Linked DNA regions of Homo sapiens. The protein of the gene in region 1 purifies or fractionates together with the protein of each later gene. This does not show direct contact. Each region holds a gene or a part of one and is shown in the gene's direction. Other genes may lie near its edges. The genes, in order: SLC43A3, LMBR1, ATP8A1, MFSD8, ABCB1, RABL3 and IFITM1.

The links.
Region 2: the proteins of SLC43A3 (region 1) and LMBR1 purify together in Homo sapiens (affinity purification with mass spectrometry; one large-scale study listed by BioGRID and IntAct). This does not show direct contact.
Region 3: the proteins of SLC43A3 (region 1) and ATP8A1 purify together in Homo sapiens (affinity purification with mass spectrometry; one large-scale study listed by BioGRID and IntAct). This does not show direct contact.
Region 4: the proteins of SLC43A3 (region 1) and MFSD8 purify together in Homo sapiens (affinity purification with mass spectrometry; one large-scale study listed by BioGRID and IntAct). This does not show direct contact.
Region 5: the proteins of SLC43A3 (region 1) and ABCB1 purify together in Homo sapiens (affinity purification with mass spectrometry; one large-scale study listed by BioGRID and IntAct). This does not show direct contact.
Region 6: the proteins of SLC43A3 (region 1) and RABL3 purify together in Homo sapiens (affinity purification with mass spectrometry; one large-scale study listed by BioGRID and IntAct). This does not show direct contact.
Region 7: the proteins of SLC43A3 (region 1) and IFITM1 purify together in Homo sapiens (affinity purification with mass spectrometry; one large-scale study listed by BioGRID and IntAct). This does not show direct contact.

What each region holds. Positions count from the first base shown.
Region 1 is NC_000011.10:57,409,918-57,414,004, reverse strand, and holds part of SLC43A3 (equilibrative nucleobase transporter 1), read left to right. Parts: intron 1-3,883; coding exon 3,884-4,070; intron 4,071-4,087. UniProt on the Homo sapiens protein: Sodium-independent purine-selective nucleobase transporter which mediates the equilibrative transport of extracellular purine nucleobases such as adenine, guanine and hypoxanthine.
Region 2 is NC_000007.14:156,886,194-156,890,280, reverse strand, and holds part of LMBR1 (limb region 1 protein homolog), read left to right. Parts: intron 1-4,087. UniProt on the Homo sapiens protein: Putative membrane receptor.
Region 3 is NC_000004.12:42,576,948-42,581,034, reverse strand, and holds part of ATP8A1 (phospholipid-transporting ATPase IA), read left to right. Parts: intron 1-1,056; coding exon 1,057-1,222; intron 1,223-2,647; coding exon 2,648-2,775; intron 2,776-4,087. UniProt on the Homo sapiens protein: Catalytic component of a P4-ATPase flippase complex which catalyzes the hydrolysis of ATP coupled to the transport of aminophospholipids from the outer to the inner leaflet of various membranes and ensures the maintenance of asymmetric distribution of phospholipids.
Region 4 is NC_000004.12:127,954,915-127,959,001, reverse strand, and holds part of MFSD8 (major facilitator superfamily domain-containing protein 8), read left to right. Parts: intron 1-1,409; coding exon 1,410-1,501; intron 1,502-4,087. UniProt on the Homo sapiens protein: Outward-rectifying chloride channel involved in endolysosomal chloride homeostasis, membrane fusion and function. Conducts chloride currents up to hundreds of picoamperes.
Region 5 is NC_000007.14:87,513,536-87,517,622, reverse strand, and holds part of ABCB1 (ATP-dependent translocase ABCB1), read left to right. Parts: intron 1-957; coding exon 958-1,114; intron 1,115-2,194; coding exon 2,195-2,392; intron 2,393-4,087. UniProt on the Homo sapiens protein: Translocates drugs and phospholipids across the membrane. Catalyzes the flop of phospholipids from the cytoplasmic to the exoplasmic leaflet of the apical membrane.
Region 6 is NC_000003.12:120,735,726-120,739,812, reverse strand, and holds part of RABL3 (rab-like protein 3), read left to right. Parts: intron 1-1,145; exon of another isoform or gene 1,146-1,286; intron 1,287-4,087. UniProt on the Homo sapiens protein: Required for KRAS signaling regulation and modulation of cell proliferation. Regulator of KRAS prenylation, and probably prenylation of other small GTPases. Required for lymphocyte development and function. Not required for myeloid cell development.
Region 7 is NC_000011.10:312,148-315,936, forward strand, and holds IFITM1 (interferon-induced transmembrane protein 1), read left to right. Parts: upstream 1-1,892; 5' UTR 1,893-2,023; coding exon 2,024-2,209; intron 2,210-2,774; coding exon 2,775-2,966; 3' UTR 2,967-3,125; downstream 3,126-3,789.

The sequences.
Region 1 (4,087 bases):
GGCACAAAGAAGCGCACATAATCTGTTCTAGGTGAGGATGGGATTGGTGTCAGGGAAGGCTTCCTGGAGGGAATGGCACCTAAGCCAAGACCTGAAGGATGAGTAAGGAGGGAGGAGATGAAGAGGCGGGGCCTTGGAGAGTGGCCCAGGAGCACAGTGGGGTCAAAATGGTGAATGAGAGAGTGAAACATTGAGGAATCTGGGCAGATGAGTCGGGCTGGCTAGGGCACAGAGCACTGGGGAATCTTAGGGAAGTGGCTGGAGAGAGAGAGGTAAGAAGGGGTCAGGCTGTTTACCACATCAGGGAGTTTTGGCCTGATCCTTGGACCTGGTTGGAGGAGTAGAGGTATGCTGAGGTATTTTAACCTGCTGGGTCAGGAGGGACAAAAGTAGACTAACATTTTGCATACTTATTTCATCTATCCCTTCCCCCACCCATGCACCTGCTTCTCCCACACCTGCTAGAGTTTTCAAAGCAAATCTCAGACATCGTATCATTTCATCCGTAAATATTTCTCTATACCCGTACATGTATCTCTAACAAATAAGGCCTCTTTTACTTAAACATCACCATAAAATCATGATCACACCTAAAAAATAACAATAATTTCTTCATATCATCTACTGTGCAGTCACTGTTCAAATTCCTCCAATCATTTCAAATACATCCTTTTACAGTTGGTTTGTTCCAATTAGGATCCATGCCTGGTCCATGCAGTGTATTTGGTTGCTGTGTCTTCTATAGCTTTTAAAATCTAGAACAGTCCTCCCCCCTACCTTTTCTTGTTTATTTGTTGAAGAAACTGGGTCATTTCCCCATATTTTGGATTTGGCGTTGTTTTAATGTGTCATTTAAAAGTATTCCTTTCCTTGGGTATTTCCTGTAAACAACAGGATTAGAAGCTTGGAGGAAACGCAGTTTAATTTTTTTTTTTTTTTTTTTGCCGTGAATAACTCAGTGGTAGAGCTATGGGTTTCCTCTGTTCTCCTGTCAGCAGCCCCTGGTGTCTGTTGTCTTGTTACGATGTTAAGATTGATCAACTGGTTTAGACATTGCGAGTCTGATCCATCCACTATAAAGTTTCCCATCAACCATATACTTAGTGATTTTAGGAGCCATTAATGATCAATGCCTAGGCCCATTATTTCATTAGGATCGCAAAAGGATGATTTTCTTTTCTTTCTTTTTTTTTTTTTGAGACAGAGTCTCACTGTGTTGCCTAGGCTGGAGTGCAGTGGCGTAATCTCAGCCTACTGCGACCTCCGCCTCCCAGGTTCAAGCGATTCTCCTGCCTCAGCATCCCGAGTAGCTGGCATTACAGGCACCCACTACCTGGCTAATTTTTGTATTTTTAGTAGAGATGGGGTTTCACCATGTTGGCCAGGCTGGTCTCAAACTCCTGATCTCCAGTGATCCACCTGCCTTGGCCTCCCAAAGTTCTGGGATTACAGCCACTGCCCCTGGCCAAAAGGATGATTTTCTATTTCTATCTTCTACTTTTAATCACTAGAATTCTTCTAGAAAGAAAAACATTCCTTACTATTTTGTTACCCAGAAATAAATGCTTGGCTTACACATTTATTTACCAGTTTGAAATATGAGTTGGTGCCCTAGTGACCTTCAGGGATGGCTACTAATTGTTTCTTTTATAATATTTCATTTTAAAATATATTTGACATGTTTTAATCTGTTCTGTCATGATTCTTCTTGATGCTCAAATTGTCTCACCTTTGGCCATTGAAAACTTTACCAGCCCAGAATCTGTGTCTTTTAGATGAAATCACATTATTTCTAGAGAGTTTCCTTACTTTCTAACACAATTAAATGTTCAGGTCCATTTCACTAGGTGTGTTTCTTGCCCTAGACATGAAATTGTCATTTTTCCCAACTAGCCCTGGGTTTCTTTAATTGGAAATGGTAGAGACTACAGTCTGGATGCTGAGGTTTTTTATTGCTCCTGGGTTGTCACTGCTTTTGGGTTTTGGATAGAGTTAACATATATATAATTTTTTTATAAGAAAAATATCATAAATACTTAATACTGATATTTTTATTCAAATTTTTATTTCCTTGATTTTACATTTGTAGCCCTTTCTCTTCCTCTGATAAACTTGGTTCCTAACATATGCATATGTAAATGTACATACACATATATAGTATTTTAAATATAATTACTGGTTTTACCAATATTGATGTTACTTGATAACAATACAATTGCTAAATACTGTTGCTACTTCTTTGTTTCCTTTTTTCTGTCCTTCCTTATTCCTTTCTCATCCTTAGGATATATCCCATTAGAGATGTACAGTCAAATTGCCATATTTTCTTCTTTATTTTTAGGGATGAGGTCTCACTCTGTTGCCCAAGCTGGAGTACAGTGGTACGATCACGGCTCACTGCAGCCTCAACCTCCTGGGCTCAAGTGATCCTCTCCCTTCAGCCTCCCAAGTAGCTTGGACTACAGGCATGCACTACCATGTCTGGCTAATTTAAAATAATTTTTTTTTTTTTTTTTTTTTTTTTTTTTTTTTTGTAGAGGAAGGGTCTTTGTTGCCCAGGCTGATGTCTAACTCCTGAGCTCAAGCAATCCTCTTGCCCTGGCCTCCCAAAGTGTTGGGATTGTGGGTGTGAGCCACCACACTGGGCCAAATTACTGATTTTAAGGGTCACTAATTTGGTATAGAGTTATGTTCATTGATTTCATTTTATTTTGTTTCTGATTTTTAAAGATTGTTTTACTTGTTTTCTTCCTATTATTATTTTATTTTATTTGTAAAACATTTACATATCAGACATTTACATTTTCCCAAAGGTAAAACTGTGAAACAAGATATATTCAAAGAAGTTTACTTTCCCTCTCTGTTTCTTGTACCCCTTTTCCTCTTCTTTAGGTAACCATTTTTATTTTTTTAAATATAAACATTGTGTAGGTGTATATACATGTATTAGTCTGTTTTCATGCTGCTGATAAAGACCTATCTGAGACTGGGAAGAAAAAGAGGTTTAATTGGACTTACAGTTCCACATGGCTGGCAAGGCCTCAGAATCATGGCAGGAGGTGAAAGGCACTTCTTACACGGTGGTGGCAAGAGAAAAATGAGGAAGAATCAAAAGTGGAAACCCCTGATAAACCCATCAGATCTCGTGAGATTTATTCACTATCACAAGAATAGCGTGGGAAAGACTGGCCCCCATGATTCAGTTACCCTCCCCCACTGGGTCCCACCCACAATACGTGGGAATTCTGGGAGATATAATTCAACGTGAGATTTGGGTGGGGACACAGCCAAACCATATCAATACATTTCCCTCTCTTTTAGATAAAAGGTAGTATACTGTATACACTATTCTGCAGAGTTTTTTTTTTTTTTGATGTAACTCTATCCTGAGGGTGCTCTGTAGCAGGGACCTCTCATGCCTTTTAACCACTGCCTGGGTCTCCATTACATGGCTGCAGCATAGTTGCCACAGCATTCCTGTACTGATGACTATTTGGATTGTTTCCAGTCTTTTGCTATTACCAGTAGTGTTACAAAGAGGATCTGGCTACATGTTCAGGGTGGGGAGGGGCAGATGTGTAGCCTGTCAGGAGGGTATTGCAGTAATCCATGACTGAGTTAATGGTAGTTTAAAGCTAGGATGAGTCAGTGGGGTTGGAGAGAAGTGGGCACATTTGAATGATATGTAGGAGGTGAATGATCAGCATTATTGATGAGTTTGAGGTGGGGCATGTGGGGAAAGGATTCGAGGATGACTCCCAGGTTTCTGTTGGGACAGTGGATGGATAGTGGCTCCTCCCCTTTTTCCAATCTTCCTTGGCCCTTCGCTGACTTCTGTTGGGTTGGCCTACAGAGAGCTTCTTTTTCCTCTCTGTTCGCCCAGGTTCCTCCACTTTGGCGGTGGCCCTCTGCTCGACGGTGCCTTCGCTGGCCCTGACATCCCTGCTGTGCCTGGGCTTCGCCCTCTGTGCCTCAGTCCCCATCCTCCCTCTCCAGTACCTCACCTTCATCCTGCAAGTGATCAGCCGCTCCTTCCTCTATGGGAGCAACGCGGCCTTCCTCACCCTTGCGTAAGTGGCCTTGGGGC
Region 2 (4,087 bases), on another chromosome or scaffold:
TCCTTACTCTAAGACTGATGTTCTCTTCTTCTTTTCTCTAAATGCTTTATTGAATTACTCTTCTCATTTAAATTTGCAATCTATTTCGAATTTATTTTTTTGTGTCTGGTGCAAGGTAGGAGTCATATTTTTTTCTCCCACAGGAATGTCCAATTGCTTCAGCACTATTTAGGACTTTTGTCACAGATAGGTAACTGTATATTCATAGGGTTTAATTTTGGACTTTATGTGGTTTTATTGGTCTATTTGTCTTTAGTTTTATTATTTTTTAAAATTTGAGACAGGTTCTCCCTCTGTTGACCAGGCTGTCGTGCAGTGGCGCAATCATGGCTCACTGCAGCCTTGACTTCCAAGGCTCAGGCGATCCTCCCACCTCAGCTTCCCAAGTAGCTGGGACTACAGGCTTGAATCATACAGGTGTGCACTAACAGACCCAGCTAATCTTTTAATTTTTTGTAGAGGTGAGGTCTCACCGTGTTGCCCAGACCTGTCTCCTGGGCTCAAGTGATCCTCCTGCTCTTTGGCTTTACTTTTAATTAATTAGATATTCTAGAATTTGGGTTGAGAAAGGGACACATTGTAAAACAGTCCAGAGCTTCGTCTACTCCCCTGAAAACGGTTTTGGTACCGATTATGGAGTTCTTTAGTTCTGACTCTCCTCACCTGTTTCCCTCAACCCAGTACCCCTGGCTGGTTGAGTCTACTCCATCTTCTACAGAACCAGCGCAGACAGTGACCAGGCTCAGGGTTCCCAGTCTTTGGCATTTCTTTCTCAAATGATTTATATTTAGAGTGAATGTAAATACTTTTTCTCTAAGACCTGTTGCCAATTTTTAAAATTATTCAATTCTTTCTGATTTTGCTACATAATGCTATAATTGCTTAACTTTTTTATCATAATAAGATATATATATATAACATGCAATTTACCATATCTAAATATACAGTTCAGTGGCGTTAAATACATTCACATTGTTGTGCAACCACCACCACTATCCATTTCCAGATCTTTTTCATCAACTGAAACTTGATACCCATGAAACAGTAACTCTCCATTCTTCACTCTCTCCAGCTGCTGGTTCTGCCTATATGAATCTGACTATTCCCAGTTGAACCATACAATATTTGTCCTTTTCTATCTGGCTTATTTCACTTAGCATAATGCCTTCAAAGTTCACCTGTGTTGTAGCATGTGTCAAAATTTCTTTTTCTTTCTTTTTTTTTTTTGAGACAGAGTCTTTCTCTGTTGCCCAGGCTAGAGTGCAGTGGCGTGATCTCGGCTCATTGCAACCTCTCCCTCCCTGGTTCAAGCAATTCTCCTGCCTCAGCCTCCCGAGTAGCTGGGATTACAGGCATGCGCCACCGCACTTGGCTAATTTTTGTATTTTTAGTAGAGATGGGTTTCACCATGTTGGCCAGGCTGGTCTTGAACTCCTGACCCCAGGTGATCCACCTGCCTCAGCCTCCCAAAGTGCTGGGATTACAGGTGTGAGCCACTGTGCCTGGCCTCATTTTTTAATTTTTTGTAGAGATGGGGTTTTTGCTATGTTGCCCAGGCTGTTCTTGAACTCCTGGCCTCAAGTGATGCACCCACCCTGGCCTCCCAAAGTGCTGGGATTACAGGCGGGAGCCAACGTGCCTGGCCCAGAATTTGTTCAGGCTGAATAATATTTTCTTTTTGTGTATACTGTATTTTGCTTACCCATTCATTCATCAATTGACCTGAGTTGTTTCTGTTTTTGGCTATTGTGAATAATGCTGCTGTGATCATGGGTATGCAAATATCTATTAGAGTCCCTGCTTTCAATTCAGAAGTAGAATTGCTGGATCATATGATAATTCTATGTTTAATTTTTTTTTTTTTTTTTTTTGAGACAGAGTCTCGCTGTGTTTCCCAGGCTGGAGTGCAGTGACTCAATCTCGGCTCACTGCAAGCTCCGCCCCCCCGGTTCATGCCATTCTCCTGCCTCAGCCTCCCGAGTAGCTGGGACTACAGGCACCCGCCACCACGCCCAGCTAACTTTTTGTATTTTTAGTAGAGACGGGGTTTCACCATGTTAGCCAGGAAGGTCTTGATCTCCTGACCTCGTGATTCGCCCGCCTCAGCCTCCCAAAGTGCTGGGATTACAGGCGTGAGCCACCACGCCCGGCCTCTATGTTTAATTTTTTTGAGGAACTGCCATACCATTTTCCACAGAGGCTGTACCATTTTATATTCCCACTAGCAAGGAGCCAGAGTTTCTGGTTCTTCCGCATCTTCACCAACACACATTGTTTTCTGTTTTTCTTCTTTTTTTTAAAATGGATGTGAAATGGTATCTGATGCTGGATTTGATTTGCATTTCCCTAATTATAAGTGAAGTTCAGCATTGTTTCATGTGCTTATTGACTATATGGACATCTTCTTTGGAGAAATATCTGTTCTTTGCCTGTTTTTGAATTGAGTTGCTTGATTTTTGTTGTTTAGTTTTAGGAGTTCTTTATATATTCTGAATATTAACCCCTTATCAGACATGTGATTTGCAAACACTTCTCGCCCATTCTGTAGGGTTGCCTTTTTACTCTATTGCTAGTGTCCTTTGATGCACAAAAGTTTTTAATTTTGTAGTCCAATTGATCTATTTTTTCATTTGTTGCCTGTGTTTTTTTGTGTCATATCCAAGAATTCATCACCAACTGGCATCATCACCAACTGGCATCATGAAGGTTTTCCTCTAAGAGTTGTATAGTTTTAGCTCTTAGGTTTAGGTCTGATCCATTTTGAATTAATTTTTTTGTACAATATAGTGTTTAACTTTTTTTTTTTTTTTTTTTTTTGAGATGGAGTCTCACTCTGTCGCCAGGTTGGAGTGCAGTGGCACAATCTCAAGGCTCACTGCAACCTCCGCCTCCCGGGTTCAGGCAATTCTCCTGCCTCAGCCTCCCGAGTAGCTGGGACTACAGGCGAGCGTCACCACACCCAGCTAATTTCTGTACTTTTAGTAGAGACGGGGTTTCACCATGTTGGCCAGAATGGTCTCAATCTCTTGACCTCGTGATCTGCCGCCTCGGCCTCCCAAAGTGCTGGGATTACAGGCGTGAGCCACCGCGCCCAGCCTAGTGTTTAACTTTTAAATACTCATGTAATAATTTTGTCTTTTGTATTATGAATATCTCATAGTTCTCTTGTCAGTTGCTTTAGTGATCATATTTGACTTTGGCTATTAGTATCAGGTAGTAATGATTGATTTCCTTTCTTTTGAGAGCTAGCTATGAAATCCTAAGGCTGCCAGCTAACTGAGTATACCCTCTCTTGGCTAAGGGGACCCCAGGAAACCTTAAAAACTGAATTCCCAACCAGAATGGGATGGGACATCTGACACGCCTCAGTATACCCCCTCCCTTTTGAGGTTTAAACACAGCTGACCAGCATTAATGTTAAAATAGAGATCTGAAGACTGAGAGAACAGACTCTTTGTGGCAATAAAATACCCAACTGTGAACAAAATGTAGGGCCATGCCAGGCAAGGGTTAAGTAAAGCATCCCCTTAAAGAATAAACTGGTTCTAACTGCCTCAAGGTGTTTCTTTTTTTCTAGCGGCTAAACAAGCACTGGCCTCCAGATAAGCAATATTAAGATAACTGCAGCTCACTCACTGCCAGACCCTAAGTGATCCCCACTCTCCTGTTCCACAAGCCATAACTATAGCTTTGATTGGACAAGAGACTGATTTCAGTAACTTTCTCCTGATAAGAGCACTGAGCATGAACTGGTTCTGGCCAGTTTACAGAGGCTGTGCACTTCAGTGCCTTCATGTCCCTGCTTCGCCATCTGACTACAGGGCCTCATTGTAATCCTTTTAGATGTTAAGTCTCCACCCACAAGTGAATATGGATAAGTATGTAACATACATGTTTATTCAGCCTGCATGTGCATGACCTCCCCCACTTTGTGAATATTCATAGCTCCTCCTATAACCTGTTAAATATATAAACTTGGCCAACCCGTTCAGCATAAATCCCTGTTCTATCCTCCCTTGAAGGTCTGTTTCTGTGCTCTGCGGGAGGATGCTTCCCAGCTATCAGGATTGCCACCTTGTAGGCTGTG
Region 3 (4,087 bases), on another chromosome or scaffold:
TATTATAGTGATTATTACAAGTCGTCCATGTCATGATAAGTGATCTGCATTAAAACATTTGTCTTGTAATTTTAATGCAATAGTCAACTTTTTAAATTTCTATCTTTTAATAAAATTTTTTAGAAATTTGAATCAAATGACCATTTTTCATAGCATTTATATGTAAGGCTATTTTTGCCATCAGCTTTAATTCTTGCATTGATCTTCACACCTGCCTACAGTTGCTCCGTCCCTGTGTTATACCATCAATATTCAATAGTCAGATGGGTGTGGAAAACAGTTTTAAGAAACTAAATGAAAATCTGCTCTCAGAGCTAATACCTTTGTACCTTGTACAGGCATGAAGGTATTATCAATAGGCAAGCGAGATTGCTGTTAGTGATTCCACCACTAGCCATTTTATAAATTCTATAAATCTTCATTTCATATTCATTCTGACATTTAATTTTCTGTTCTATGGATTTTTTGGTTAGCACAGGTCTACATAACCATTTGAATCATCAAATACAACTGAGGCAACTTGCCTCTGTTATTCTTTATAGCCAGGACTACTTAAATTGTTGCTGCGTTCAGTAAAACAATTGCTAAATGCCACCAGAAATTTGAAAGCCGGAGATCCTTTAAATGTTGCCTTCCTATGTTCAAATTTCCAGGTGCCTGTTTGCGGGAGCATGGGCTGCCTTGTCTGCCTGTCTTCCTGAACGGAAACACTAAATGTTTCTAGACTACCCTGTTTGCTTACATAGCCAAGTAATGCATTATTCATCTTACCTGCCACAATGCAAAAGCTATTTTTGCAAAGGGAATGTAATTTCGTTCTCTTCTTTCTTATAGTTTACTTCCTAGAAAAAGGCCTGGGTGGTGTAGTGGCCTTGAAAAAAAGGTGGTTAACCATTGGCACCTTATTACATTTGTCATGGGTTTCACATAATTTTCACGTATCCACCCACATCTAGATACTGAGTTGTGACTTTGTCATCCTCAACAGAATACTAAGTATAGATTGCTAAATCATTGGTGTACATTTTTTATTACTCATCTTGTTTCTTTTTACAGAATTCAACAAGTCCACCACTTAAGCTCTCAAATGTGGAACGGATTACAAATGTACAAATTTTGATTTTATTTTGTATCTTAATTGCCATGTCTCTTGTCTGTTCTGTGGGCTCAGCCATTTGGAATCGAAGGCATTCTGGAAAAGACTGGTATCTCAATCTAAACTGTAAGCAATAAAGTGCTTACTGCACTTTTTTAGATTAAGACATGTATTTGTTTCACAATTGATCTTGATTTACTTTATTTCGTATTGTTTCTAAAAAGACCTTGTTGCCAAGATAGCTGGACATTTGATCTTTATTTTTCAGTGAGATTTCTAGCAAGTGTAAGTAAAATTTGGGAATCCTAAAATTTCAGAATCCTTAAAAACATAATGAGCACTCTATAGTGGTATAAAATGTTCACTAAGTATAGTCATTTATTATATATATCAACGAAAACTATTCCTTAAAAATATTTTTAACATAGGTGGTTAACTATATGGTAAAGAAAGTAGATTGACCATGTGTGGATATAACAAAACATATATATTTAAATATATATTGTATGTATTTATAAATATATAAAATATTTTAAATATATTTAAATAATATAAATATTTAAATATATTTTATCTTAAATAAAATATACTTTGTTTATATTTTATTTAAATAAAAGTACCAAAAAGTGGTTTATATGGTTTAAAAATGTTTAAACCCAATGTATTTTCATTTGAACTCAGTAATGTGGTAAGTCCTATATTAAATGTTATCTTAGAGAAGGTGCTAGTAAATAGTTTTCCTTTAGAGCATTTATCCTTTTATTATTGTGATATTAATGTACCACCCCTGGATATTTCTGTCAAATGAGTTTACATTTTCATTTCATGAGTACTTAGCCAATAAAGACTTAACTTCCAAAAGTGTGAAAGCAAATTCTAGTACAATCACATAGCAAAAACTGGTATTTTTAAATTTTTTTTATTATATTGATTTATCTTTGCAGCAATTCCAAGTTGTTTTTATAGTTACTGATTTATTATTTCAGTATCAGAACTGTTACTACCATCAGTCTGTTTCTTTGTATACTTTATAATTGTATCTGGTATAGCAGTTTTATTTTCATTTTGAGGAAGAAGAGTATAATGTACCTAGGAGAATAATTTACCTAGGACTGAATATTACTCATATAGTTTGGATTGTTTTTGCTGCTGCTGTCTTGTTTGCTTTTAAAGTATGCTTTAAATTGGAAATACTCTTAAGAATTTATATAAAAGTGATTCTACCCAATTGAGATTTTATATTTATAAACCCTCAGTGCTATCCCTGATGTCTCTAAACTTTGTGTTTGGAAGAGGGTTTGCAATATTTGACAGTCCTTTCACTGTCTTAGTACTTTTATACAGCTCTTACCTGGATTAACAACATATTGAACACAATGCAATTCTATCTTGAAGGATGTACTTGAGAATTAGGATAGATTATCAGCAAAGTGTTCCTCCCAAATTATCAAATAAGCTGCGTAGTATGGAAAACTTGTATTATGCTAATTTGGGGTCAATGCAAATAAAATATAAAACTGTAAATGACGTTCTTCCTGCCTCTCCCAACAGATGGTGGCGCTAGTAATTTTGGACTGAATTTCTTGACCTTCATCATCCTTTTCAACAATCTCATTCCTATCAGCTTATTGGTTACATTAGAAGTTGTGAAATTTACCCAGGCATACTTCATAAATTGGGTAAATATGAATTATGATTGTTATCACCCTACAAAATAATTTTGTCCTTAGGATATTTTGATATCTCAGGAGAAAAAAGGTTTTAATTATATCTACCGTTTCTTGACCACAGTATCAGATTTTTGAACCTAATTTGTTGCAAAGTTCCTCATCTCAGAATCACACAAGTTTACAGGCCAGACATTGTAGGGAAAATGGGTCTCTAGTTCAGGAAACCTATGGTGGTCGTGGGAGATGGAGAACCATGAGTTTGGAGTTAAGTGTCTGAATTATGGTTCTAGTATTATAATTTACTAGGTGTATCAACTTTCTCAAGTCACTTATTTTGAAACTTATTTTCTTGAACACAATCATAGGGATAATATGCCTTACCTACATCTTACAGTGGTTTTATGGACTAAGGAATCTCTTGACATAGCAAAGAGCTTTGAAAATAATCAATCACTATACAAATAATACTGTAATTCTTACTGATATCAACCAGATTATCATGTTATATCATGTTATTTTCTACACTGTAAACAATTTTAGCTTCACTTGAATTTTTCTTCATAATTTTTCTCTTGAATATTGTTAAATATTAGAAAAATGTTGGACATCTACTTTCTAAATGTTTTTAAATGTCTTAGTTTTATTTTTATTAAAGTTAAAATTAATGAATTTATCTAAATTAAATCTGTGGGCCTAATCTGCCAGAAAATTTAATTTTTCTTTTATTTTGAGAAACTTTGTGTTATTTTTGATGTTTCTTTCTTTTTCAATCATTGTAAAGTCTTTCAATATGAACAATATTAGGGTTTCGAAAAATATGACATACTTTTGTAACTGCTCATTATCTTCTTGTAGCGAATTATCTACCTAAACTGTCAATCTCTTAATTCATTGGTAAGAAATCAGTGTGATTTAGAAATCTAAAATGAGCTGCAGGTGTAGCTCACTTCATGCAGGAGATATATGGCTGAAAAATTACGTAATAGGATATGTACAAATATAAGTAAGACTTATTGAAGTTTCTTATAGCAATAATAGGGTAACTCATTGTGAGAATCACATAAGTAAGCTAGATAATCACTTTGTTGTTTTGATTTTCAAAAATAATATCTTTCAAAGAATTATATAATTTTAGTATTGGATGAACCCAGCAGGCTTATGCTTTCAACCACCTTTCTAATATACAGAGATTTTATAACATCTGACAGATAGAACACTGACTTTCCAGCCTTCTTTTACAAAGCAACTTTCTTGTGTGAAAATGAGATTATAACTGTCTTCCTTTGATTCTGGTTCTTCCCAATGGATCTATTAAGAAAAT
Region 4 (4,087 bases), on another chromosome or scaffold:
ACTGGGGTGACATTTGAGGGCCTTTGACTATCCTCTCCTTAACAATCTTCCAGTCAGTTGTTTTAGCATCCATTGATGATCCTTCCATTATAGCATAGAAAGTGGCCATTAAATTATTATTTTCTAATTTTATCCTTTCAATATTTAATAATTGTCATTTGTCATTAAAAGAAGAAAGATTTTGTCTGAGCTCTAAATCAGTCACTCAAACAATTTTATTATTTTTTTAGAATCAAATAATTTACTTCTTGATTCCCTAACTTAGATATATCTGGTTTTTTATTCAAATTCTAGTATATTGATTTCAAAGTATGGGCATCTAGGGTTCTGGTATTTTTCTCAGGTAAGCTACATTATTTTTATTTTTTTCTTATCTCCTTTGACTCAGAAGAGGTTTGTTTATATGGAATGACATATATAGTGTTAAACACTTTAAATATATTAGGAACTAATATGTTTGGCATATAATACATCTAAAAACATTGTTTCTCTTCTTCCTTTCCTCTTTACCACTCCCAACCATATCACGTTTGAAAAAAAAAAGTTTCTTTTTTGAAGACTAATTTGACAGTTCTAAGGCTTATTTTTAAGAAATTAATCTTGGAACATAAGAAGGCATTTTGTCTGTTCTGCATGTCTTGATTATTTGAAAAGATAATGCTCACGTTAAGGTGAACTTGTTAACTCTTTCTATTGTGTGTGTGAAAATGTAATGAGTATATAGACTCATGTGTCACCTAATGGAGGTAAGATATCTACTTAGTATACATGCCTTTGGTCCAGATCAGACGCTTATCCAAAAGATCACTTAAGTCTGGGGAGTCATGGTCTCTCTTTGGTCTGCTGATAAAATTTATCTGGTAACCCATTTAGGAGGTCCCAGGGCTGAAAATGTCTTAGGTTACGTTAAACCTTCCTGGTATCATTCCTGTTTTCTGAAGTAGGAAGCCAAAAGAGCTTCCTGCAGCAATTTAATTTGCTGTCATCAAGTAGAGCATGTTATAATGATGACAGTTATTATTTTTTAGTACTTAGTAGCTACGGGGGATCTAGTTGTAGCTAGTTTATTTGATTTATCTTGACGTAATTTATTCATTTTTACAAATTGCAACACTCTTGATTAATAAATCTGTGCATGTCAATGGTAGCAAAATAATTGCCTTGCAAAAAGTTTCCTCTTTTAAAACTATACTGTTTCCCAAATTTCTGTATACAATAATGCATATATACAATCCATGGAAATTCAAAAAAATAATGCTTATTCATAGATAAATTAGTGTAGCAGAATCAATATTGGTAAATTCTACCTCTATCACATCATTTTCATAACTAGAGAATAAAACTGTTGACACTTAAGATCCACATGTAATGAGATAAATTTATACTACTTTTTTCTTCTTTACACCTAGAGAATGGGACATTTTAGAGACTGAAGAGCATTATAAGAGCCGATGGAGATCTATTAGGATTTTATATCTTACTATGTTTCTCAGCAGTGTAGGTAAGTATTAGAAATACATAATTTTAACAATTCAGATCAGATGTCATATTTTAACTTCATTTACTTCATTTACTTTCATTGCCTCTGAAATTATCTTTATTGTGCTAAAAAATACGTGACATAAATTTACCGTGTTACCATATCTAAGTTCAATAGCCTTAAGTATATCCACATTGTTGTGCAACCAATCCCTAGAACATTTTCATCTTGCAAAAGAGAAACTCTATACCCATTAAACAACTCCCTATTTTCCCATCCCCCAAGCCCTAGCAAACTTTGTTTCTTGGAATTTGACTATTCTAGATAGCTCATATAAATGGAATTATATAGTATTTTTTTTCTTGTGATGAGATTATTTCACTCAATGTCCTCAAGTTGGTTCATGTTGCACTTGTGATAATTTCCTTTTATTTAAAGGCTGTATAGTTCATTATATGTATTCTAGGGTAGGAGAAATTTTTCCTCTATTCTCCTATGTGCTTAAGGCTTGTGAATTAAGCTGACAAAAGAAAGACTAACAGTTAAAAAAGTATACAAATTTATTTGATGTTAATATTTTTTAATGAAAAGAAACAAATAACATTAAGGAATGTACATACAAACGAAACTAGACAACTACTAAGAGTCCCTAACACTTTCATGTACTCACAAAAGTATTTCATCTTTTTTTTTTTTTTTTTTTGAGACGGAGTTTCACTCTTGTTGCCCAGGCTGGAGTGCAATGGCACGATCTCAGCTCACTGCAACCTCCACCTCCCAGATTCAAGCGATTCGCCTGCCCCAGCCTGCCAAGTATCTGGGATTACAGGCATGTGCCACCACCCCTGGCTAATTTTGTATTTTTAGTAGAGACGGGATGTCTCCATGTTGGTCAGGCTGGTCTCGAACTCCCAACCTCAGGTGATCTGCCCACCTCGGCCTCCCAAAGTGCTGCGATTACAGGCGTGAGTCACCGCCCCCAGTTAAAAATATTTCATCTTTTTTCTTTTTTTTTTTTTTTCAAGACGGAGTTTCGCACTGTCGCCCAGGCTGGAGTGCAGTGGCGCGATCTCGGCTCACTGCAAGCTCCGCCTCCCAGGTTCGCGTGATTCTCCTGCCTCAGCCTCCCGAGTAGCTGGGACTACAGACACCCGCCACCACGCTAATTGTTTTATATTTTTAGTAGAGACGGGGTTTCACTGTGTTAGCCGGGATGTCTTGATCTCCTGACCTCGTGATCTGCCAGACTCAGCCTCCCAAAGTGCTGGAATTACAGGCCTGAGCCACCGCACCTGGCCAAAAGTATTTCATCTTTACAGCCATCAGTCAATTATTTGTTCTGCTACTTCTTGAAGATGTGCAAAATTTCTTTTTAAAAAAATTTTATTATTTATTATTATTTATTCATTTTTTGAGGTGGAGTCGCCCAGGCTGGAGTGCAGTGGTGTGATCTCGGCTTACTGCAACCTCTGCCTCCTGGGTTCGAGCAATTCTTGTGCCTTAGCCTCCCGAGTAGCTGGGACTACAGGCGCACGCTATCACGCCCAGCTAATTTTTTTGTATCTTTAGTAGAGATGGGGTTTCACGGCGTTAGCCAGGATGGTCTCGATCTCGTGACCTCATGATCTGCCCGCCTCAGCCTCCCAAAGTGCTGGGATTACAGGCGTGAGCCACCCCGCCTGGCCAGTGCAAAATTTCTTAAGTTTAAATATACAGTCTTAATTATACCTGTGTCTTAATGTCCCAAGACAGATTGTAGGTAACAGAATCTCAATTGTGCCTCAAAGAATTAACAACAAAACAAAATTCAATCTATTCTCTGCATTCAGGCAGAAAGGGGGAGAGCAGAGAACCCTTCCTGCATCTGCTATTTCTCGGTTGCCTTCAGTTTGAGATAATTAATATGGCAAAACAGCAGATTTTTGGAGTAGCATACTCTGATTGCCTTCAGTATATACCACATTTTTTTTTTTTTTTTTTTTGAGACAAAGTCTCGCTCTGTCGTCCAAGCTGGAGTGCAGTGGTGTGATCTTGGCTCACTGAAACCTCCGCCTGCGGGGTTCAAGCAATTCTCTGCCTCAGCCTCCCAGGTAGCTGGGATTACAGTCACCCACCACCATGCCCGGCTAATTTTTGTATTTTTAGTAGAGATGGGGTTTCACCATCTTGGCCAGGCTGGTCTTGAACTCCTGACCTCGTGATCCACCGGCCTCAGCCTCCCAAAGTGCTAGGATTACAGCCTAGCCTGGCCTACCACATTTTGTTTAGCCATTTATCTGTCGATGGACATTTGGGTTGCTTCCACCTCTTGGCTGTTGTGAATAGTGCTGCTGTCAATATGGGTGTGCAAATATCTCTTCAAGATCCTGCTTTTAGTCCTTTTGGGTATATATCCAGAAGTGAAATTGCTGGATCATATTATGATTTTCTTTTTAATTTTTTAATTTTTTGGAAAATTGCCATACTGTTTTCCATAGCAGCCGTACCATTTTATTTACATTCTCAACAACAGTCAGGGTTCCAATTTTTTCACATCCTTGCCAACGTTAACTTTCTTTTGGATAGTAGTCATCCTAGTGGATGAGATGGTATCTTGTTTTGATTTGC
Region 5 (4,087 bases), on another chromosome or scaffold:
TAATGCTGTGTAACAACCAGCCACTAAACCTCAGAGACATACATATTTTTGCCCACAAACCTATGGGTTAGCTGTGAAGTTCTACTGATCTGGATTAGGCATAGTGGATCTCGGCTGGACTTACTCATGTGTCTGTAGTGGATTGTGTCTGTAGCTGGTTGGTTGGGATTCAGACAGCTCTCCTCCATGTGTGCCTCATCCTCCAGCAGGCTATCCTGGGTTTGAGACAGTGGCAGAATTCTGAGAGAGAGAGAGAGAAAGAGAGAGAGAACACATGCATGCATGCTCACAAAGCATATAAGGCCCCCTGAGTCATAGGCTTGGAACTGGCAAAAGTGATTTCCACCATATCCTGTTGGCCAAAGCAAGTCACAAGGCCAGCCCAGATTCAAAGGGTGCTGCAAAGGTCACAGTGCAAGAAGATGAGGATACAGAGAGAGGTATACAGAGGGAAAAAAATGGGCCATTTTGCAATCAATCTATCACATAGACATGAACTTATAAGGAAATGTGTTTGTTTTATTTTTAACATCTGTTTTATAACTATTAGAGGCAAAGCTCTCTGGTTATAGAAGTGTCAACTTTTGGCCAGGCATGGTGGCTCACACCTATAATCCCGGCACTTTTGGAGGCTGAAGCAGGAGGTTCACTTCAGCCCGGTAGTTCGAGACCAGCCTGGGCAATATAGGGAGACCCCCATCTCTACAAAAAATAAAACAATTAGCTGGTGTGGTCATGCACAGTTGTAGTCCCAGCTACTACAGAGGCTGAGGTGGGAAGATCGCTTAAGCCCTGGAGATCATATCTTTAGTGAGCTCTGATTGCACTACTGCACTCCAGCCTGGGCAACACAGGAAGACCCCACCTCAAAAAAAAAAAAAAAAAAAAAAAGGAGTGTCAGCTTTCTAGCATTGTGATGGTAATGCTGTGCACATGTTTTGTGTTTGTGCTTTCCAGAGTATTTTCAGCTGTTGTCTTTGGTGCCATGGCCGTGGGGCAAGTCAGTTCATTTGCTCCTGACTATGCCAAAGCCAAAATATCAGCAGCCCACATCATCATGATCATTGAAAAAACCCCTTTGATTGACAGCTACAGCACGGAAGGCCTAATGCCGGTGAGTTTGATGTTTCAACTGTTTGATCTACTCCTGACTCCTGAATGAAAGTATTTTAAGTGGAAACTTAATAAAATTTGTACTTTCAAATATGCTGATGATAAAATAAAACTTCCTAGATCATAGATTCCTTTCAATTACTGCTAATAATATACATCAACATTCAGTACTTTTACGTAGCAAAGGTTATAGGGAAATAGGAATACTGCTCACTTTATAAGCAAAACCTATTAATCAGATTTTTTAAAAACAATTTTTTTTTAGAGACAGAGTCTTACTCTGTCATCCAGGCTGGAGTGCAGCAGTATGATCATAGCTCACTGCAGCCTTGATCTTCTGGGCTCAAGCGATCCTCCTGCCTCAGCCTCCCAAGTAACTGGGACTACAAGCGTGTGCCATCATGCCCAGCTAATTTTTTAATTATTTGTAGAGACAGGGTCTCGTTATGTTGCCCAGGCTGGTTATCAGATTTTATTGTATGTAAGTTACTGTATTCCTGAGGAACAGATTTGAGTTATTGTAGCTGTATTGCATATTCATATTGTCTTAACAATACATGCTATGAAAGCTTTTACTCTTTTAGATCTCATTTATTAAATTCTAGCAGTCTGAGGTCAAGCACAGTGGCTCATGCCTGTAATCCCAGCACTTTGGGAGGCCAAGGTGGGTGGATCACGTGAGGTCAGGAGTTCGAGACCAGCTTGGCCAATATGGTGAAACTCCATCTCAAATAAAAATAAAAAAAAAAAGATTAGCTGGGTGTGGTGGCACACGCCTGTAATCCCAGCTACTTGGGAGGCTGAGGTACGAGAATTGCTTGAACCTGGGGGGTGGAGGTTGCAGTGAGCTGAGATCATGCCACTGCACTCCAGCCTGGGTGACAGAGTGAGACTCTGTCTCAAAAAAATAAAAAATAAATAAATAATAAAATTAAAATAAAATAAATTCTAGCAGTTTGAAGTGAAGCCAATTGTAACACAAATTAATTATCTTCTGACACCTGGTAATCGAGAGAGTTAGCTATACACTTTATTTTCAGTATTGCAGCATTCAAATTTACTGTTATTCTTCTCATTGCAGAACACATTGGAAGGAAATGTCACATTTGGTGAAGTTGTATTCAACTATCCCACCCGACCGGACATCCCAGTGCTTCAGGGACTGAGCCTGGAGGTGAAGAAGGGCCAGACGCTGGCTCTGGTGGGCAGCAGTGGCTGTGGGAAGAGCACAGTGGTCCAGCTCCTGGAGCGGTTCTACGACCCCTTGGCAGGGAAAGTGGTGAGCACACTTTCACATTTAGCTCAGTTCAGGTTTTCATCATCCAAATGTCTGAATGTATTTAATTCTCAACTATAAGCCATGTTTTTTCAAACCTTTAAACAACAGTCCCACTTGGATAAAGTCTGAGAGCCTAAATATGGTCTCCAAGTGGTGTCATCTGTCCCAGCCAACTTCTCCAGGCTCCCCTCAACACTACCCCTCTACCCTCCTTTGCAAGCACCCTTTGTACCACCTGTCTCCCTTGCTGTACTTAGGTTTCAGCTGACTTGAAAAGAACCAACAAAAATGGAAGTAGCCAGAAAGATACAGGACAGGTGCTAGGAGTGAGATGAAAGCCAAGGATGGAGACTGTTTCAAAGATGGTGGTCAGCAATGACAGATGGTATAGAGAGATTGGGTAAGGAGGAGACTGAGAAGACATGATAGAATCTAGCAATGAATGGGCTATTTCTGACATTTTAAAATATTCTTAGTGAAGTAGTGATGGTAGGAAACAGTTAAGGGTGGCTGAAGTATGATTAGGGGAAGAAATGGAGATGTAAGTGAGCATAGATTATCAAGAAGATGGAAAGTAAAAGAAAGGCAAATAAGGACAGCACTTGAGTGGGGAGGCAGAGTCCAGGGAAAATGTTTAGGGGTTGAACTCTTGAGCATTTTTATGACTGGGGATGAGACAAAATCATTGATGGAGAGAGGGCATTGAAACATCATCTGAGGAAAAAAAAGTAGAATCAACAAATTTGGGAAATGTAAAAAGAACATGGAAGTATGCCCTTTTGTCTTAGTTGCTGGGGATGAGGGAAGTGTCTGGCAGGGAGTAGTGAGTTTAAACGACTATGATGGGGGATAGGAAAGAAGACAAACTAGGAAGGAATAGAATTAAGAGCAAGACATTTTCATTATGTAGGCATGTAATTAGTTGTACTGAGAAGTGATATTTAAAATTCTTAACAATGGGAACAGCATGGACACTGACCAATCAGAATGGATGCCTGCTAGTACAAGTCAGATGGATGCCCACCCGCTGTGTATGGACGCTGGTAGCATTTAATGACTCAAATGAAAAGAGAGTTTTCAATCTTTAGTCTAGGACTCTTTTTACTTCCTCACAGCGGTCACTCTTACTCATAAATGTTTGTTATTGTATTCAAAGACAGTTATGCCTTTATTCAGTTTACTCTTAAATCATTACAAGCTTGTTCCCTACTTTTACTCTCTTGCTTTATATTTTCTGTGAACTCTGATTGTGTCCTTCAATTTTGTGGTGAACTTAAAAACAGGACTCTAAATAAAGACGTCGCTGACAGCCAAAGCAATTAGAGGAGGAAATGTTAGCTCTCAGACACTGATTATGGCCCTCAACAGACAGTTATTAAGTGGTGTGTTAAAGATTGTGCTATAATGAATTGTAGGGCATGATATCTGCCCTCAAATACTTTAACTGAGGAGATGGGGCATATAGTTTTGTGAGTTAAAGGAGATAGGCCTAGAGCTAGTTCTTAAGAGATAAGGATTTGCATATGGGTGAACAGTAGGGATGACATTCAATGTAAGAGAAAATACAAGCTGCGATCAGTGATTTGTTCCCAATGCAGCAAATAGGACACTTTGGCTGAAATGGGAGTTTAGTTTGAGTAGTGGTTCTCAAACTTCTCTGATGAGAACTCATGTAGGAAAGATTTAAAGATGTCA
Region 6 (4,087 bases), on another chromosome or scaffold:
AAGCTGATAATTAAGTGGATAGATACATTCCTTGAACATAAACAAACCTATTTACAAATACAGAATCAACAATACATCCTAAAAGTTACAGATATTAGACACAATGCAGTAAATTCAATGACAAATATAATTTTGAGTATTTAAAAATCTTAAATGTTTCTATATAAAAAAAGTAATAAAAGGGAAGCCTGAGAAAATGTTTGATTCAATTACACATACGTAAAATGATTAATATATTTAATAGATAAAGAGCTCATATAAATTAATGACACTAAAACCTGGTAGATAAAGGTACAGAGTAGATCAACAGAGAATTTATGAGAGGAAAAACAACTGATTTGCCAGAATAATCATAATGATAATCTTTGATCTTTATCAGAAAGTAAAGAAATGCAGACTAAAGCAAGCTGTCACTCCCCCACTGCCCGCCACCACCGAGACGGATTGTTGCTCTGTCACCCAGGCTGGAGTGCAGTGGCGCAATCTCGGCTCACTGCAGCCTCTGCCTCCTGGGTTCAAGTGATTCTCTTGCCTCAGCCTCCCAAGTAGCTGGGATTACAGGCACCCACCACCACGCCCAGCTAATTTTTGTATTTTTAGTAGAGACAGGGTTTCACCATTTTGGCCAGGCTGGTCTCGAACTCCTGACCTCGTGATCTGCCTGCCTCAGCCTCCCAAAGTGCTGGGATTACAGGTGTGAGCCAACGCACCTGGCCAAGATGTCACTTTTATTCCTTTATCAGGTTAACAAGGATGAAAAGCCAACTACATGATACTGTTGAGGTGCAACAAGACCTGCAGGCTCAAGTGTATGGCTGGTGGCAGTATAACCCCATGAAAGTTATTTCTCAATGCATATCAAGAACTTTAAATGTTTCCTTTTAAGTACTGAGTTTACTCCTGGGAAGGTATACTAAGGACATAATTTTAATTTTAAACAAAGGTTTAAACAGAAATAACCTTTCACTAGCATATCAAAAATTTCAAAACACCCTAAATATCTAATAATAATGGAAGAATGATTAAGTAAATTTTTATGCCTACTTTCTGAAGTACTATGGAGATACTTTAAATGTTTATGAAGATTTTGGAATAATATGGAAACTTTTAATAAATACTAATTAAGGTTCTGATCTAAATACTAGAGATAAAAAAGCTGCGTAAGAACCCTCAAGGAACTTAAAATTAAGGGAGTGGTTCCAAGATGACCAATTAGGAACAGCTCCAGTCTACAGCTCCCAGCGTGAGCGACGCAGAAGACAGGTGATTTCTGCATTTCCAACGAGGTACCAAGTTCATTTCACTGGGGCTTGTCAGACCGTGGGGGCAGGACAGTGGGTGCAGCCCACTGTGTGTGAGCCAAAGAAGCGCAAGGAGTCAGGGAATTCCCTTTCCTAGCCAAGGGAAGCGGTGACAGACAGCACCTGGAAAATTGGGTCCCTCCCACCCTAATACTGTGCTTTTCCAATGGTCTTAGCAAACAGCACACCAGGAGATTATATCTCTGACCTGGCTCAGAGGGTGCCACACCCACGGAGCCTTGCTCATTGCTAGCACAGCAGTCTGAGATCTGCAAGGTGGCAGTGAGGCTGGGGGAGGGGCGCCCGCCATTGATGAAGCTTGAGTAAGTAAACAAAGAGGCCAGGAAGCTCGAACTGGGTGGAGCCCACCGCAGCTCAAGGAGGCCTGTGTGCCTCTGTAGACTCCACCTCGGAGGGCAGGGCATAGCCTGAAACCTCTGCAGACTTAAATGTCCCTGTCGGACAGCTTTGAAGTGAGTAGTGGTTCTCCCAGCACAGAGTTTGAGAACAGACAGATTGCCCCCTCAAGTGGGTCCCTGACCCCCGAGTAGCCTAACTGGGAGGCACCCTCCAGTAGGGGCAGACTGACACCTCACATGGCCCAGTACCCCGCTGAGAAAAAGCTTCCAGAGGAATGAATGATCAGGCAGCAACATTTGCTGTTCAGCAATATTCGCTGTTCTGCCACCTCTGCTGCTGATGCCCAGGCAAACAGGGTCTGGAGCGGACCTCCATCAAAATCCAACAGACCTGCAGCTGAGGGTCCTGACTGTTAGAAGGAAAACTGACAAACAGAAAGGACATCCACAACAAAACCCCATCTGTCCGACTCCATCATCAAAGACCAAAGGTAGATAAAACCACAAAGATGGGGAAAAAACAGAGCAGAAAAGCTGAAAAGTCTAAAAATCAGAGCACCTCTCCCCCTGCAAAGAAACGCAGCTCCTCGCCAGCAAAGGAACAAAGCTGGATGGAGAATGACTTTCACAAGTTGAGAGAAGAAGTCTTCAGATGATCAAACTTCTCCGAGCTAAAGGACGAAGTTCAAACCCATTGCAAAGAAGCTAAAAACCTTGAAAAAAGATTAGCTGAATGGCTAACTAGAATAACCAATGTAGAGAAGTCCTTAAATGACCTGTTGGAGCTGAAAACCATGGCACAAGAACTACGTGATGATGCACAAGCTTCAGTAGCCGATTTGATCAACTGGAAGAAAGGGTATCAGTGATGGAAGATCAAATGTATGAAATTAAGTGAGAAGAGAAGTTTAGAGAAAAAAGAGTAAAAAGAACGAACAAAGGCTCCAAGAAATATGGGACTATGTGCAAATACCAAATCTATGTCTGATTGGTGTACCTGAAAGTGACAGGGAGAATGGAACCAAGTTGGAAAACACTCTGCAGGATATTATCCAGGAGAAGTTCCCCAACGTAGCAAGGCAGGCCAACATTCAAATTCAGGAAATACAGAGAACGCCACAAAGATACTCCTCAAGAGGAGCAACTCCAAGACATGTAATTGTCAGATTCACCAAAGTTGAAATGAAGGAAAAAATGTTAAGGGCAGCCAGAGAGAAAAGTCAGGTTACCCACAAAGGGAAGCCCATCAGCGTATCTCTCAGCAGAAACTCTACAAACCAGAAGAGAGTGAGGACCAATATTCAACATTCTTAAAGAAAAGAATTTTCAACCCAGAATTTCATATCCAGCCAAACTAAGCTTCATAAATGAAGGAGAAATAAAATACTTGACAGACAAGCAAATGCTGAGAGATTTTGTCACCACCAGGCCTGCCCTAAAAGAGCTCCTGAAGGAAGCACTAAACATGGAAAGGAACAACTGGTACCAGCCACTGCAAAAACATGCCAAATTGTAAAGACCATTGAGGCTAGGAAGAAACTGCATCAACTAATGAGCAAAATAACCAGCTAACATCATGATGACAGGATCAAATTCACACATAACAATATTAACCTTAAATGTAAGTGGGCTAAATGCTCCAATTAAAAGACAGACTGGCAAATTGTCAAGACCCATCAGTGTGCTGTATTCAGGAGACCCAGCTCATGTACAGAGACACACATAGGCTCAAAATAAAGGGATGGAGGAAGATCTACCAAGCAAATGGAAAACAAAAAAAGGCAGGGTTTGCAATCCTAGTTTCTGATAAAACAGACTTTAAACAACAAAGATCAAAAGAGACAAAGAAGGCCATTACATAATGGTAAAGGGATCAATTCAACAAGAACAGCTAACTATCCTAAACATATATGCACCCAATACAGGAGCACCCAGATTCATAAAGCAAGTCCTTGGAGACCTACAAAGACACTTAGACTCCCACGCAATAAAAATGGGAGACTTTAACACCCCACTGTCAACATTAGACAGATCAACAAGACAGAAAGTTAACAAGCATATCCAGGAATTGAACTCACCTCTGCACCAAGCGGACCTAATAGACCTCTACAGAACTCTCCATCCCAAATCAACAGAATATACATTCTTCTCAGCACCACATCACACTTATTGCAAAACTGACCACACAGTTGGAATAAAGCAATCCTCAGTAAATGTAAAAGAACAGTAGTTGTAACAAACTGTCTCTCAGACCACAGTGCTGTCAAACTAGAACTCAGGATTGAGAAACTCACTCAAAACCGCTCAACTGCATGGAAACTGAACAACCTACTCCTGAATGACTACTGGGTACATAATGAAATGAAGGCAGAAATGAAGATGTTCTTTGAAACCAATGGGAACAAAGACACAGCATACCAGAATCTC
Region 7 (3,789 bases), about 57 Mb from region 1:
CAGGCGGAGTGGGTTAGGGTCAGACCTCCTTCACTGTCATCATATTCTCAGTTATGACTTTTGCAAAGGTGGTTTCAGTTCCATGCCTGCCCCTCAGAATCCTGTCTCCCTCTTGTGCCCTGCAGTTTCTTCCTTCCTAAACTGCCCGTGATTTAAAGAAGCTTCCAAAATACCTTCCACGGGAAATTCAAGCCCCACCCCACTCCGCAGTGATGTGTGGCCTTTGATAGGAGGTCACAGAGCCTTGTGAGGAGTTTGTGTAGGCAGTCCTCGATGTCTCAGAGCACGCTCCATCCACATCCACCCCTGGCTTGCCGGGACCCAGACATAGTTTGGTCTAAGTGGCCTGGGATGTGGCTGGGGCTGGAGGCGGCCTGTTGAGGGGTGGGTGGAGGGTGGGGGGGTTGGTGTGCGATTTGGGGAGGCCCAGCAGGGACTCCAAGCAAGGGCAAGGGCTAGTTCTTTTTTTTTTTTTTTAGCTGCAATGGGTAGGGAGGGGCTGATGGTTTTGGAGCTCGGTGTTTGAGATGTTAAGTCTGCTGATGCTCCTGGCCGAATAAAGGCCAAATAAAGCCCTTTCTTTCCTCAACTCGATGTCTGAGGGTTTTGTCTGTGGCTCGTCCTGCTACAATTTCTAACGTTACCAGTAATTTTAAAGCTAGCTTATTAAAGATTCTACTTAAGTCACATGAACGTGAAAAGCATTTAGGCTTATTATTTAATTTATGAGTACTCTTTAAGTTTAAGCTAAATTTGGTAACTTGTGGCCAAAAACACATAACGAAATATGTGTATGTGCACATATACACACATACACACTCAAGCAAAAGTATGGTTTTACTTCAGAACTCCAGCCATGAGATAGTAATACAAATTCATTGGTTTACACAAACAATAAAAAGAAATGGTTGGATGCAAACAGTGGATTTTATCTCTGTAGAAAAGTAACAGCAGACTTAAAGCAGGCAGAAACGAAAGCAGAAAGAGAACTTAAGAACATTACATTAATAATTGCAGGCCCACCTTTGGGCTCTGATTTTTCCTTTATGTAATTTGCAATTTGTAATTCATGATCCTTGTGCCTGAGGGCTCCCTTCTGCTACTCAGTCTACAATTCCCCGTCCCTGTGAAGGGGCACCCAGGCCTGACAGCCCCAGACTTGGCTTTGCCAACCCTCCAGGTCTCTCCTGCATGGCTAGGACCCAACGCCTAGGTCATCCAGCACTCACCCCAACCAAAGCCATGGGAATTGCTGGGACCCGGAAGGTAGGGGGTGGCACATGTGTGCCCTGTGCTCTGAAGCTGCCCCTACAGGCCCTGGAATCCTCCCCGTGTCTCAACACACTACCCTCTGGGGAGTCAGTTCTCCCCAGAGTCCCCGTTCCTGGGCCTGGAGGGCTGCTTTGGGGCAGGAAACTTTGGCCACCAGGCCTCTGACCTGCACCAGGAGACACTGGGAGGTTTAGTCCCCAAACCCGCACAGAGCAGGACTGCAGCCTGAGGAAAGAGCAAGGATTTCAGGAGAGAGGCCTGCGACAAGTGAGGTGAGGGCTTTTGGGGGATTGTCCTGGCGCCTGGAGTGTGGGGGCCTGGCAGGGGCCCTGAACCGGGACAGTGAGGTCCTGTACTTGCTGGCCTGGGGTGGACAGAACCCAAGCCTGGGTAAAATCCCCAGGGCCCCCTAAACCCAACACTTAGGAAGTCACTAGTCCTGACTTGAGTTTCTGATGAGGAAGCCTCTCTCCTTAGCCTTCAGCCTTTCCTCCCACCCTGCCATAAAGTAATTTGATCCTCAAGAAGTTAAACCACACCTCATTGGTCCCTGGCTAATTCACCAATTTACAAACAGCAGGAAATAGAAACTTAAGAGAAATACACACTTCTGAGAAACTGAAACGACAGGGGAAAGGAGGTCTCACTGAGCACCGTCCCAGCATCCGGACACCACAGCGGCCCTTCGCTCCACGCAGAAAACCACACTTCTCAAACCTTCACTCAACACTTCCTTCCCCAAAGCCAGAAGATGCACAAGGAGGAACATGAGGTGGCTGTGCTGGGGCCACCCCCCAGCACCATCCTTCCAAGGTCCACCGTGATCAACATCCACAGCGAGACCTCCGTGCCCGACCATGTCGTCTGGTCCCTGTTCAACACCCTCTTCTTGAACTGGTGCTGTCTGGGCTTCATAGCATTCGCCTACTCCGTGAAGGTGCGTATGGCCCTGGCGGAAATCCAGGGGGTGCCGGTGAGCCTGGGGCTCCACCTGCCCACATGCTGCCTGGGGTGGGGACTTGTGTGTCCCTGTGACTGTGAGTTTGTGTGCACCTCTGCCCCGTGTGTGCTCACGTCAGTAGCTTTGTCTGTGTGATCTGTGTGTGTGTGTGGCTTTGGGGAATCTGCCCAGTGCAGGTCTAGGAGGAGGCTCCAGGAGGCTGGCTGGCTGGCTCAGAGTCTGTCCCTGGCTATCCATTAGCCCAGAGCAATTCTCCCTATAGCCCAGTAAGAAATTACACCCTCACCTTCCAGACTGGCACCCAGGCTCTCCCAGAAAGTGAGAAGGGAACTCACAGGTGACTTCACCCCATGGTGGGGAGAACAGCCTGTGCTGGGGCCAAGGCAGAAGGAGGATGAGCCCCGAGGCTCCTGGAGAGTCTGAGCCCGGGTGAGGAAGGGGAGGAGGTGGTCCCTGATCTCAGGGCGGGGAGGAGACGGAGCCATAGCACGCGGCTCTCAGCTGGGGGATCCTGGTCCCCTCACCATCTCCTCTCCCCCAGTCTAGGGACAGGAAGATGGTTGGCGACGTGACCGGGGCCCAGGCCTATGCCTCCACCGCCAAGTGCCTGAACATCTGGGCCCTGATTCTGGGCATCCTCATGACCATTGGATTCATCCTGTTACTGGTATTCGGCTCTGTGACAGTCTACCATATTATGTTACAGATAATACAGGAAAAACGGGGTTACTAGTAGCCGCCCATAGCCTGCAACCTTTGCACTCCACTGTGCAATGCTGGCCCTGCACGCTGGGGCTGTTGCCCCTGCCCCCTTGGTCCTGCCCCTAGATACAGCAGTTTATACCCACACACCTGTCTACAGTGTCATTCAATAAAGTGCACGTGCTTGTGATGATGCTGTGACTTCATCTGGAGTGGGGGCCCTGCTGAGGGGTCCCGGCCTAGTCCTGAGACAGCCCAGTGCTCAGCCCCTGCACAGCCGTATCCCTCCTCTGTGAAGCTCTCAGGGGAGCAGGGATATGCTCAGAATCTGCTGGTTTCCGCCTCCTGCTGTGGGCAGCATCTGGACCAGGAACGTGGGGTGGGCATTTCTCTGACACCAAGGTAAGGACACACTGTCCAGAATACCTTTGGGCCAGGACAACCTGCCTCTGAGCTGGCTGGGCAGCTGGTCTTGCAGATGTGTGCACCTTAGGCCCTGTGGGAGGGGCAGGGGCTTTGTTCCTAGGGTAGCAGCTGAAGGAACCTCAGGGCTGCAGCCTCTCCTGGGTGATCCAGGTGTGCTGGATCCTAGCAGCTGCCTCCTCCAGTCCAGCCGGCATCTTCCCTGCTCCCCTGGGGTGGGGGCAGCCAATGGCCCGAGGGTGGGGCGCTCGCGAGGGCCTGGGAGGGCAGCTTCCGACCGGGAGCCCCGCGGGAGCTCGGGAAGAGGGTCCCGCCAGGTGGAGACCCCTCTGGTGCAGCCAGCGAGGGCCCCGGGATCCCGCAGTCTTGAAATGTGACGGGAAGTCCGAGGCATCACGAAGTCGGAGACGCAGGGCGCGTCGTGGGTCCCG